2 separate regions of the Homo sapiens genome follow, and region 2 is linked to region 1. A link means that fine-mapping ties the variant in region 1 to the plasma level of a protein whose gene starts in the linked region. Region 1 holds a variant in brackets. A gene starts in the other region. All regions are shown on their reverse strands.

Region 1 (5,519 bases):
AGTATGTTACAAACTACGTGTATAAAACAACTGTATAATTTTGTAGGTGAGCCCTGCATCTGTCTGGTGCTAGGAATCAACTCTCCTGGCTTTCCTCCTTCTTCTCTGATTCTGCTCCATCTCCAACATCTATTCTGCCTTCTAGTCAATCTTCTCTTCCCTTGAACGTTTCTGACCCTCTAGCTCCTGCTTTGGCCATCTTCTTTCTCTATATTTCTCCTTCTCTCTGTGCCACTGCATTCAAGCGTGGTTAATGTTGATGTCTCCCAAATCCGTATCTCTAGTTCATCTTTTCTTCTGAGCTCCAGAACCATATATTCAGTTATCTTGTTCCACAGCTCTGCCTGTAATAAGCATATTCCAAACAGATCTCTTTTTCTTCACCTAGTCTCACTTCCCAGAAGCTGCTTCTCTTTCCATGCTTCCTGTTTTGATGGAAGTCCACTCAGATACATGGCAGGAGCCCAGACATCATCTTTCCCTCCATCTGCCTCACCATCCACATCCATTCAATCACTAAACTCTACTTACTTGGCTCCCAAAATACAGCTACATGCTCCCCACTTTTCCCTATCCCCGCTGTCTTCACACTAGCCCACATATATGCTGGCTTGGGCTTCTATAATAACCTTCTATCTGGTTTCTTCTTTAATTCAGGGTTTATTACATGGAGTGTGAAGACCCCCCCCCCCCACACCAAAGTATGTAGGTAGAATTCAGAGGGCTCATGAACTTTGTTGAGAAAAAATATATATTTATTTTCACTAATCTATAACTAAAACTTAGTATTTCCTTTTTATGAATGTAAGCAATAAGCCACAATAATATTAGCACTACCTGTAACTTTACTAACAATAGAAATTATAAATATTTCAAGTCTGGGCACAGTGGCTCACACCTGTAATCCCAGCACTGTGGGAGGCCGAGGCAGGCGGATCACTTGAGGTCAGGAGTTCAAGACAAGCCTGGCCAACATGGTGAAACCACATCTCCACTAAAAATACAAAAATTAGCTGGGTGTGGTGGCAGGTGCCTGTAGCACCCCACCCTACTTGGGGAGCTGAGGCAGGATAATTGTTTGAATCTGGGAGGTGGAGGCAGAGGCTGTAGTGAGCCAAGATCAAGCCACTGCACTCCAGCCTGGGTGAGAGTACGACTCCATCTCAAAAAAAAGAAAGAAATTGTAAATATTTTATATCATGTTGCAGTTGTTGCAAATATCTCAAATTATCATTTATATTCATTGGTTCTCTGAAATATGGTAGTTATTGATAAGACCTACTGCTAGATCTAGATCTTCTTATGTATAAAGAAGCACATATAATATTATCTTTTTTTTTTTTTTTGGGACAGAGTTTCGCTCTTGTTGCCCAGGCTGGAGTGCAATGACGCGATCTTGGCTCATTGCAACCTCCACCTCCCAGGTTCAAGCGATTCTCCTGGCTCAGCCTCCCTAGTAGCTGGGATTACAAGCGCCCACCACAACGTCCAGCTAATATTTTGTATTTTTAGTACAGATGGGGTTTCACCACGTTGGCCAGGCTGGTCTCGAACTCCTGACCTCAGGTGATCCACCCGCCTCAGCCTCCCAAAGTGCTGGGATTACAGGCATGTAATCCCATGAGCCACCACGCCTGGCTCAATACTATCTTATGCTTTTAAAATATTTTAGGCTTGGCGCAGTGGCTCATGTCTATAATCCCAGCACTTTGGGAGGCTGAGGTGGGCAGATCAACTGAGGTCAGGAGTTCGAGACCAGCTTGGCCAACATGGTGAAACCCCATCTCTACTAAAAAAAAAATATTAAAAAAATTAGCCAGGCCTGGTGGCTGGCACCTATAATCCCAGCTACTCGGGAGGCTGAGGCAGGAGAATTGCTTGGAGGCAGAGGTTGCAGTGAGCCCAGATCGCGCCATTGCACTCCAGCCAGGGCAACAGAGTGAGACTCCATCTCAAAAAAAAAACTTCTTTTTTGAAAACTGTATTTTAAAATAATTGGATTTGTTTGTAATCCTATGTATTTTTAATAGCTTTATTGAGATACAATTGACATATCATGGCTGGACGCGGTGGCTCATGCCTGTAATCCCAGCACTTTGGGAGGCCGAGGCGGGCAGATCACGAGGTCAGGAGATCAAGACCATCCTGGCTAACACAGTGAAACCTCGTCTCTACTAAAAATACAAAAAAATTAGCTGTGCGTGGTGGCGTGCCTCTGTAGTCCCAGCTACTTGGGAGGCTGAGGCAGGACAATGGCGTGAACCCGGGAGGCAGAACTTGCAGTGAGCCAAGATCGCACCACTGCACTCCAGCCTGGGCGACAGAGCGAGACTCCGTCTCAAAAAAAAAAAAAAAAAAAAAATTGACTTATCATATAATTCCCTATTTAAAGTATATAGTTTAATGTTTCGTATATTCACAGAGTTGTACAATCATTATGACAATTAAACATTATTTTTCATCACTCCCAAAGAAACCCTGTATGCATTAGCAGTCACCTCCCATTTCTTCTCAGCTTCACCCCCTCCCTCAGACTGAGGCAACCACTAATCTACTCTGTCTCTATAGATATTTTATATAAACTGAATTATAGAATATGATACAATATATGATCTTTCGTATCTGGCTTCTTTTACTTAGCATAATATTTTCAAGGTTCATCTATGCTTTGGCATGTATCAATATTTCATTCCTTTGTATGGTCTAATATTCCATTGCATGGATATACCATATTTAACTTACACATCTTCGTTTGGTGGAAATGAAGGAAACCCTAACCCCAGTACAAATGTGACTGTATTAGGAGATACTTTTAAGGAGGTAATTAAGTTAAAATGAAGCCAGTAGGGTGTCTTTATAAGAAGAGGAGGCCCGGTCATGGTGGCTCACGCCTGTAATCCCAGCACTTTGGGAGGAGTTCAAGACCAACTGGCCAACATGGTGAAACCCCATCTCTACTAAAAACACAAAAATTAGCTGGGTGTGTTGGTGGGCGCCTGTAATCCCAGCTACTCAGGAAGCTGAGGCAGAATTGCTTGAACTGGCGGAGCAGCGGTTGCAGTGAGCAGTGCGCCGCTTCACTCCAGCCTGGGCGAAAGAGGGAGACCCCGTTTC[A/CA]AAAAAAAAAAAAGAAAAAAAGTAGAGGAGATTAGGACACACAAGAAACACCAGGAATGCACTGGCACAGAGGAAAGGCCATGTGAGGACACAGAGAGAAGGTGGCCATCTGCAAGCCAAGGAGAAAGGCCTCAGAGGAAAACACACCTGCTGGTACCTTGGTCTTGGTATTCCAGCTTCCAGAACTGTGAGGAAATAACTTTCTGTTATTTAGGCCATCCAGTCTGTGACGTTTTGTTATGGCAGGTCCAGCTGACTAATACACCGTGCATTTTTACTTTCTTTATTGTGTTCTTTGAAGCACAAACGTTTTTTATTTTGATGAAGTCCAATATATTTTGCTTTCATTGTTTGTGCTTTTGGTGTCATGCCTCTCCTTTTTAAATTTTAATTTTTTTTCTTTTTTATGAGACAATGTCTTGCTCTGCCACCCAGGCTAGAGTGCAGTGGCACAATCATAGATCACTGTAACTCCAGACTCCTGGGCTACTGTGATCCTCCTGCCTCAGCCTCCCAAGTAGCTAGGTCTACAGTCATGCACCACCACACAAGGCTAATTAAAAAAAAAATTTGTAGACACAAGCTCACCATGTAGCTAAAGCTAGTCTCAAACTCCTGGCATCAAGCAATCATCCTGCTTTGGCCTCCCAATGCACTGGGATTACAGGCAGGAGATACAACACACAGCCCATTGTCATGTCTTTCCCTAACATAGGTCATGGACATTTTCTCCTACAACTTCTCTGTGTGTTCTAGTTTTACCTCTTACATTTAGGTCTATGATTCATTTTGAGTTAATTTCTGTGTATGGTGTTATGAAGGAGTCAAACTTCATTTCTTTTGCATGTGGATATCTACTTGTTCCAGGACCATTTGTTGAAAAGACTATTCTTTCCCCCGTTGAATGGTCTTGGCACCCTTGTTAAAATTCAATTGACCATAAAAAGAAAAGTTTATTTCTGGAGTCTCAGTTCTATTCCATTAATTTATGTGTCTACTCTTATCCCAAGCACCACAATGTCTTGATTACTGTAACTTTGTAAAAGTTTGAAATCAGGAACTTCTCTAAATTTGTGCTTCTATTTCAGGATTATTGTGACTTATTCTTCATCCCTTGCATTTCTACATGAATTTTAGGATCAAGTAGGATTTTGATCATGATTGTTTTGAATGTAGATCGATTTGGGGAATATTTCCATTTTAACAACATTGTCTTCCAATCCATGAACATGGTCTATTCTTCATTAATTTAGGTATTCCTTAATTTCTTTCAACAATAATTTGTAATTTTCAGGGTACTAATTTTATTTTATTTATTTATTTGAGACAAGGTCTCACTCTGTCACCTAGGCTGGAGTGCAGTGGCACGATCTTGGCTCACTGCAGCATTAACCTCCTGGGCTTAGGCAATCCTCCTGCCTCAGCCTCCTGAGTAGCTGGGACTACAGGTGCACACCACTATACCTGACTAATTTTTTTGTTTGTTTTTTTGGTAGAGACAAGGTCCCGCTATGTTGCCCAGGCTGGCCTCAAGCACCTGGGCTCAATCGGTCCTCCCAGTTGGCCTCCCAAATTGCTGGGATTACAGGCATGAACAACCATGTCCAGCCAAGAGTATGAATTTTATACTTCTTTTATTCCCAAGTATTTTCTTCTTTTTGAGGCTATTGTGAATGAAATTATTTTGCTAATTTCATTTTTTGTGTGTATTCCTACACATTTTATTTTAGGCATTTAAATAATTATTCAAGATGGGATCTGTAGGCTTTACCAGACCACCAACTATGTCCAAAGAACAAAAATAAAAATATTTTAGACCCTGCTTTATGTTGCAGCCAGAGTGATCTTGATAAAATACAAATCTGATCATGTCTCTTCACTGATTAAAATCTTTAATTGGCTGGCCATAGCAATCAGGTACAAGTCCAATTTACTTAAAATAGCTTATAAATTTCTTTATACATTTTCACTGCTTGCCTTTCTGGCTCATCTTTATACCTCTGACTCATCCTCACAATTTTTTTTTTTTTAACAGGATCCCAGCTCTGTTGCCGAGGCTGGAGTGCAGTGGCGCAATCTCGGCTCGCTGCGACCTCCCCATTTCAGGCTCAAGCAATCCTCCCGGCTCAGCTCCCTGAGTATCTGGGACTACAGGTGTGTGCCTCCATGCCCAGCTAATTCTTTTTTTTTTTGAGACAGAGTCTTGTTCTGTCACCCAGGCTGGAGTGAAGTGGCATGGTCTCGGCTCACTGCAACCTCTGTCTCCCGGTTTCAAGTGATTCTCCTGCCTCAGCCTCCTGAGTAGCTGGGATTACAGGCACGTGCTACTGCGCCCAGCTAATTTTTGTATTTTTAGTAGAGATGGGGTTTCACCATGTTGGCCAAGCTGGTCTCGAACTTCTGAC
Region 2 (3,539 bases), not on the chromosome of region 1:
GGTCGCAGCCCAGAATGCCGGGCCCTGTTCTTACCAGAGAAGAAGGCCATGGTGTGGGCCCAAGGGCCATGACAAACAGAGGGGCCGCAGGGAGCGAGAAGCCCTCCCCCAGTTACAAAACCACGTCCTGGGGGGCCACTTCTGCTTTTGGTTCCTCATTTGACTAAGAAGAGTTTCGTTAGCAGAAAACCTTTTCAAGGCGTCTTTGGAAGTCACATTGGATAACTCCTGATGCCTGCGCCAAGTGGAATCTTCCTTTGGGGCATTTTCTAGAAGGATCCCTCCTTCCTTCTCTGCAAAAGGGAACCGTCCCCCCGAAAGGGCCTGGGCCTTTGGGAAAAGGGGTTTAGAAAGCCAGGCGCGGGGACCCTTCTTTGGGGGCGGTGGCCGCATCCCAGGATCCCTTCCTAGGGGAGGCCTGGGCCCAGATGTGAGGCTGGGGGCCTCTCCCCAGGGCTCAGGGCCCCAGGAATGCAGGGCCAAGGGGGCCCATGAGCCTGCGGCCCCCCACCCCGAAGCCAGGAACCCCGGCAAATGAGTCCAGCCGGACAGTCCCGCGCTCAGGGCGGCGGCCGGCGGCGGGGTCAGGCTGGGGTCTGCCCGGCGACCTCGCGCCTGGCCCGCGAGTTCAGGTGCCCCGGAGCCAGGGAGGGAGCGGGGCGCGGAGCCGGGCGGGGAGGGCAGGGGTCACCGGGCGGGGCAGGAGCAGCGATGGGACAGCCCCGCCCCGGGGGAGTGTCCCGGCCTGGCCGCCGCAGCCTTAAGGGCCGGGCGGGGCAGGGGCCCAAAGTGCGGGGTCGGCCGGGTGCTGGGCCGAGGCCGAGGCCGGGGCGGGATCCAGAGCGGGAGCCGGCGCGGGATCTGGGACTCGGAGCGGGATCCGGAGCGGGACCCAGGAGCCGGCGCGGGGCCATGGCGAGGCGCGGGCCAGGGTGGCGGCCGCTTCTGCTGCTCGTGCTGCTGGCGGGCGCGGCGCAGGGCGGCCTCTACTTCCGCCGGGGACAGACCTGCTACCGGCCTCTGCGGGGGGACGGGCTGGCTCCGCTGGGGCGCAGGTGGGCACCGGCGGGGAGGCAGCCCTGGGGGGACGGGAGGCCCATCGCCCGGGCCAGGCGCGCGCTCTGCCTCCTGGGGGCCCTGCGTCGCCAACAGGCCTTGGAAGGTCAGATCCAGCCGCTTCGTTTTGGGGGTCGCTCCTTCTCTTCCACATCCAGGGTGAGCCCTGATGTTTGTGGGGTTGGACAAGCCCCACCTGGCCAGAAAGCCAGGCCAGCCCCACCTCCTCGGCCTCTGGGGGTGGCCCTTACGGCGCGGCATGGCTGGGGGAGCAACCCGGTTCCCTCCTTTCGGGGGTGCCCTGCCTCCTTCACATTCTGAGAGCGCTGGAGCCTCCTAGTGTGAGGTGGGCCCACACCTGGCTCACCTCTGGTGATTGTGGCCCCACTCCCATGCCCTCAGGTGTTGGGAAAGGCGGGAGGGCCCTACCGAGGGCTTCCTGGGCCCACGGCCCCCGGGAGCCCCAGCACCGATCTGGGTGGGGATGATCTCTTCTCAGCACATACCCCCGGCCTCATGAGTACCTGTCCCCAGCGGATCTGCCCAAGAGCTGGGACTGGCGCAATGTGGATGGTGTCAACTATGCCAGCATCACCCGGAACCAGCACATCCCCCAATACTGCGGCTCCTGCTGGGCCCACGCCAGCACCAGCGCTATGGCGGGTGAGTGGCCGCCCTTTGACTGTGGGCCAGGAAAGCCCATCCCGGCTGCCTGTTTATAGGCCCAGGCAGCTCAGCCCGCGGTTCCAGGGGCCTGTGATTCAAGGCCAGGTCAGCCTGGGCTGGGGTGCTAAGGCCGAGGAGCGCGGGCCTTTGCCCTCTGCTGAGGTGACCCAAGCTGGGTCATTCTGGGGCTTTTGGGTGACAGGCAGGACTAGGACTGAATCCCAGTGACAAGTGGCTGCCAGGTGCCCTCTCTCCCCCAAAGCTTGTGACCTCAGCCATTGGGATAGAAACAGAAATGCAAAATCACTGAGTCCCCAGGCTGTATTTGAGGATACAGAAGTAAACTGCTTCTCAGCACAGATGAAAGCCTGTCCTGGGCTTGGAATATTGGGTGAGGCTAGTTGGCTACAGCCCATGGCCTAACCTGGTCACTACCTCCAGCCTGGTGGGTTTCTATCTTAGGCTTTTGGCAGGAGTAGGGTAGGGAGGCTCTTAGCAAAGAGGAAGGGGAAACTAAGGCCCTCCCTATCAACGAGGCTGCTGCACCCTGCTTTGGGAGAGAAGGCGGGAGAAGGGACAGCTGCAAACCAGCCCCAGGCCCACCCCACAGCATTTGGAAGGGACTCTGCTATCCCCTCTCCAGTCACAGCACAGGGTCCAGGAGCCTGGATTTCCCCTGGAGATGGGACTTGCGTGGCCTGGGAGTTTGGCCCATGAGCACTGTGGTGCTGTTGCCTCTTCCCTGGCCTTGGTCCTCATGGGTCAGGCCTGCTGTACACCCATGTGAAAAGGATAGACTACAGTGTGGCTGCCGCTGTGGGCCAAGGCTGGGGGACATGCGTTTGCGTGTGCTCCATCTCACTGACGCCTCCTCAATGCCATGATTGCTTCCAGTTTGCAGATGAGGAAGCAGGCTTTTTGCAGAGAGATGGGGAGGCTTGAGCATAGTGTGAGTGACAGCTGAGATTTGAGCCCGGAAGCCTGGGCTTTGTGCCAGGATGTCTGATGGGCTCAGTCTTGTGAATGAGGGGTTCTTGCTCTGGGGGTAGGGTCTGGACCCCAGAGCCAGCCAGCTGAAGCTGTGGCATCCGTGGCGTCTCCCCCGGGGGCTGGAACACACTTCTGATCGTTCAAAGGTCCCTTTGATGTGGATGGAGCTGGAAGGTCTGGGAGACCTTGGGCGGGCTGCAGGGTGTGGGTGGGGCTAGAGGCAGAGGACTGGGCAGAGTCTAGGGGAAGTGTCCAGGCCTGGCACCCGCTGAGGAAGTGAAAGAGCCTTTGAGGGTGGGGTGAGGGTGAGGGGAGAATAGAAAGGTCAACAGGTGCCTGTGGGAAGCCTTGAACTCTTTGAGAGGGAGTCAGGTGACAAGATGTGCGTCTGTGAAGGACTGCGGGTAGAAAGGAGATGGCTTTCAGATGGATGTGGGACCCTGGCCAGGGGTCAGCCCTGCCGCATTTCCCCAGGGGACTCTCTCTGGGCGGATGACTGCTTCACCCCACTTTCTCCTGAAACCTCCTTCTCAGCGCACCCAGGCCCAGGCACTCGCTTCCTCTTTCACTGAGGAATAGAAGCCACCAGAAGGGGACTTCCACGGGGCCCTGGCCATTTGCCAGCCAAGGCAGCAGGTCCTCCATTTGTCTTCCCTCCTCTCCCCCAGGATCAACTGTCTTGTCCCCTCACTGAGCCCGTCCCTTCCCACTCAGGGAAGCTCTCCCACCTGGAAAAAAGGAACACAAAGCCCCCGGCCCCACCCCGCCCCAATTCTGGGCTCCCTAGGGAAGTATCTGGAGTCCCTCCACTTCCTCTTCTCTACCCT

Direction of the effects. Positions count from the first base shown, and alleles are read on the strand shown. Strength reflects both the effect of a copy and how common the allele is.
In carriers of allele A in region 1, the plasma level of the protein whose gene starts at base 787 in region 2 tends to be lower than with CA alone (weak association).

The links. A credible set is the group of variants that fine-mapping cannot tell apart. PIP is the posterior inclusion probability: the model's chance that the variant is causal. Protein levels are from antibody-based Olink assays in UK Biobank. Linkage for the fine-mapping came from a reference panel and not from the study's own genotypes, which makes the PIPs less certain.
Region 2: CTSZ starts here. The variant in region 1 is the best candidate, but not a certain one, in a credible set for the plasma level of the CTSZ protein (UK Biobank, PIP 0.85).

Annotation. Positions count from the first base shown.
Region 1 is chr13:41,111,304-41,116,822 of GRCh38, reverse strand. No RefSeq gene overlaps it. Among named protein-coding and RNA genes, the nearest start is that of MIR3168, 13 kb to the right of the region's middle. The variant A/CA (reference allele first, on the strand shown) is at 3,115.
Region 2 is chr20:59,004,502-59,008,040 of GRCh38, reverse strand. It overlaps CTSZ (cathepsin Z), which reads left to right and starts at 787. Exons shown (of 6, transcript NM_001336.4): 1 at 787-1,055; 2 at 1,556-1,719. The coding sequence starts at 913. RefSeq lists enhancers at 1-43, 724-1,535, 2,684-2,993, 3,234-3,293, 3,304-3,353 and a silencer at 504-1,103.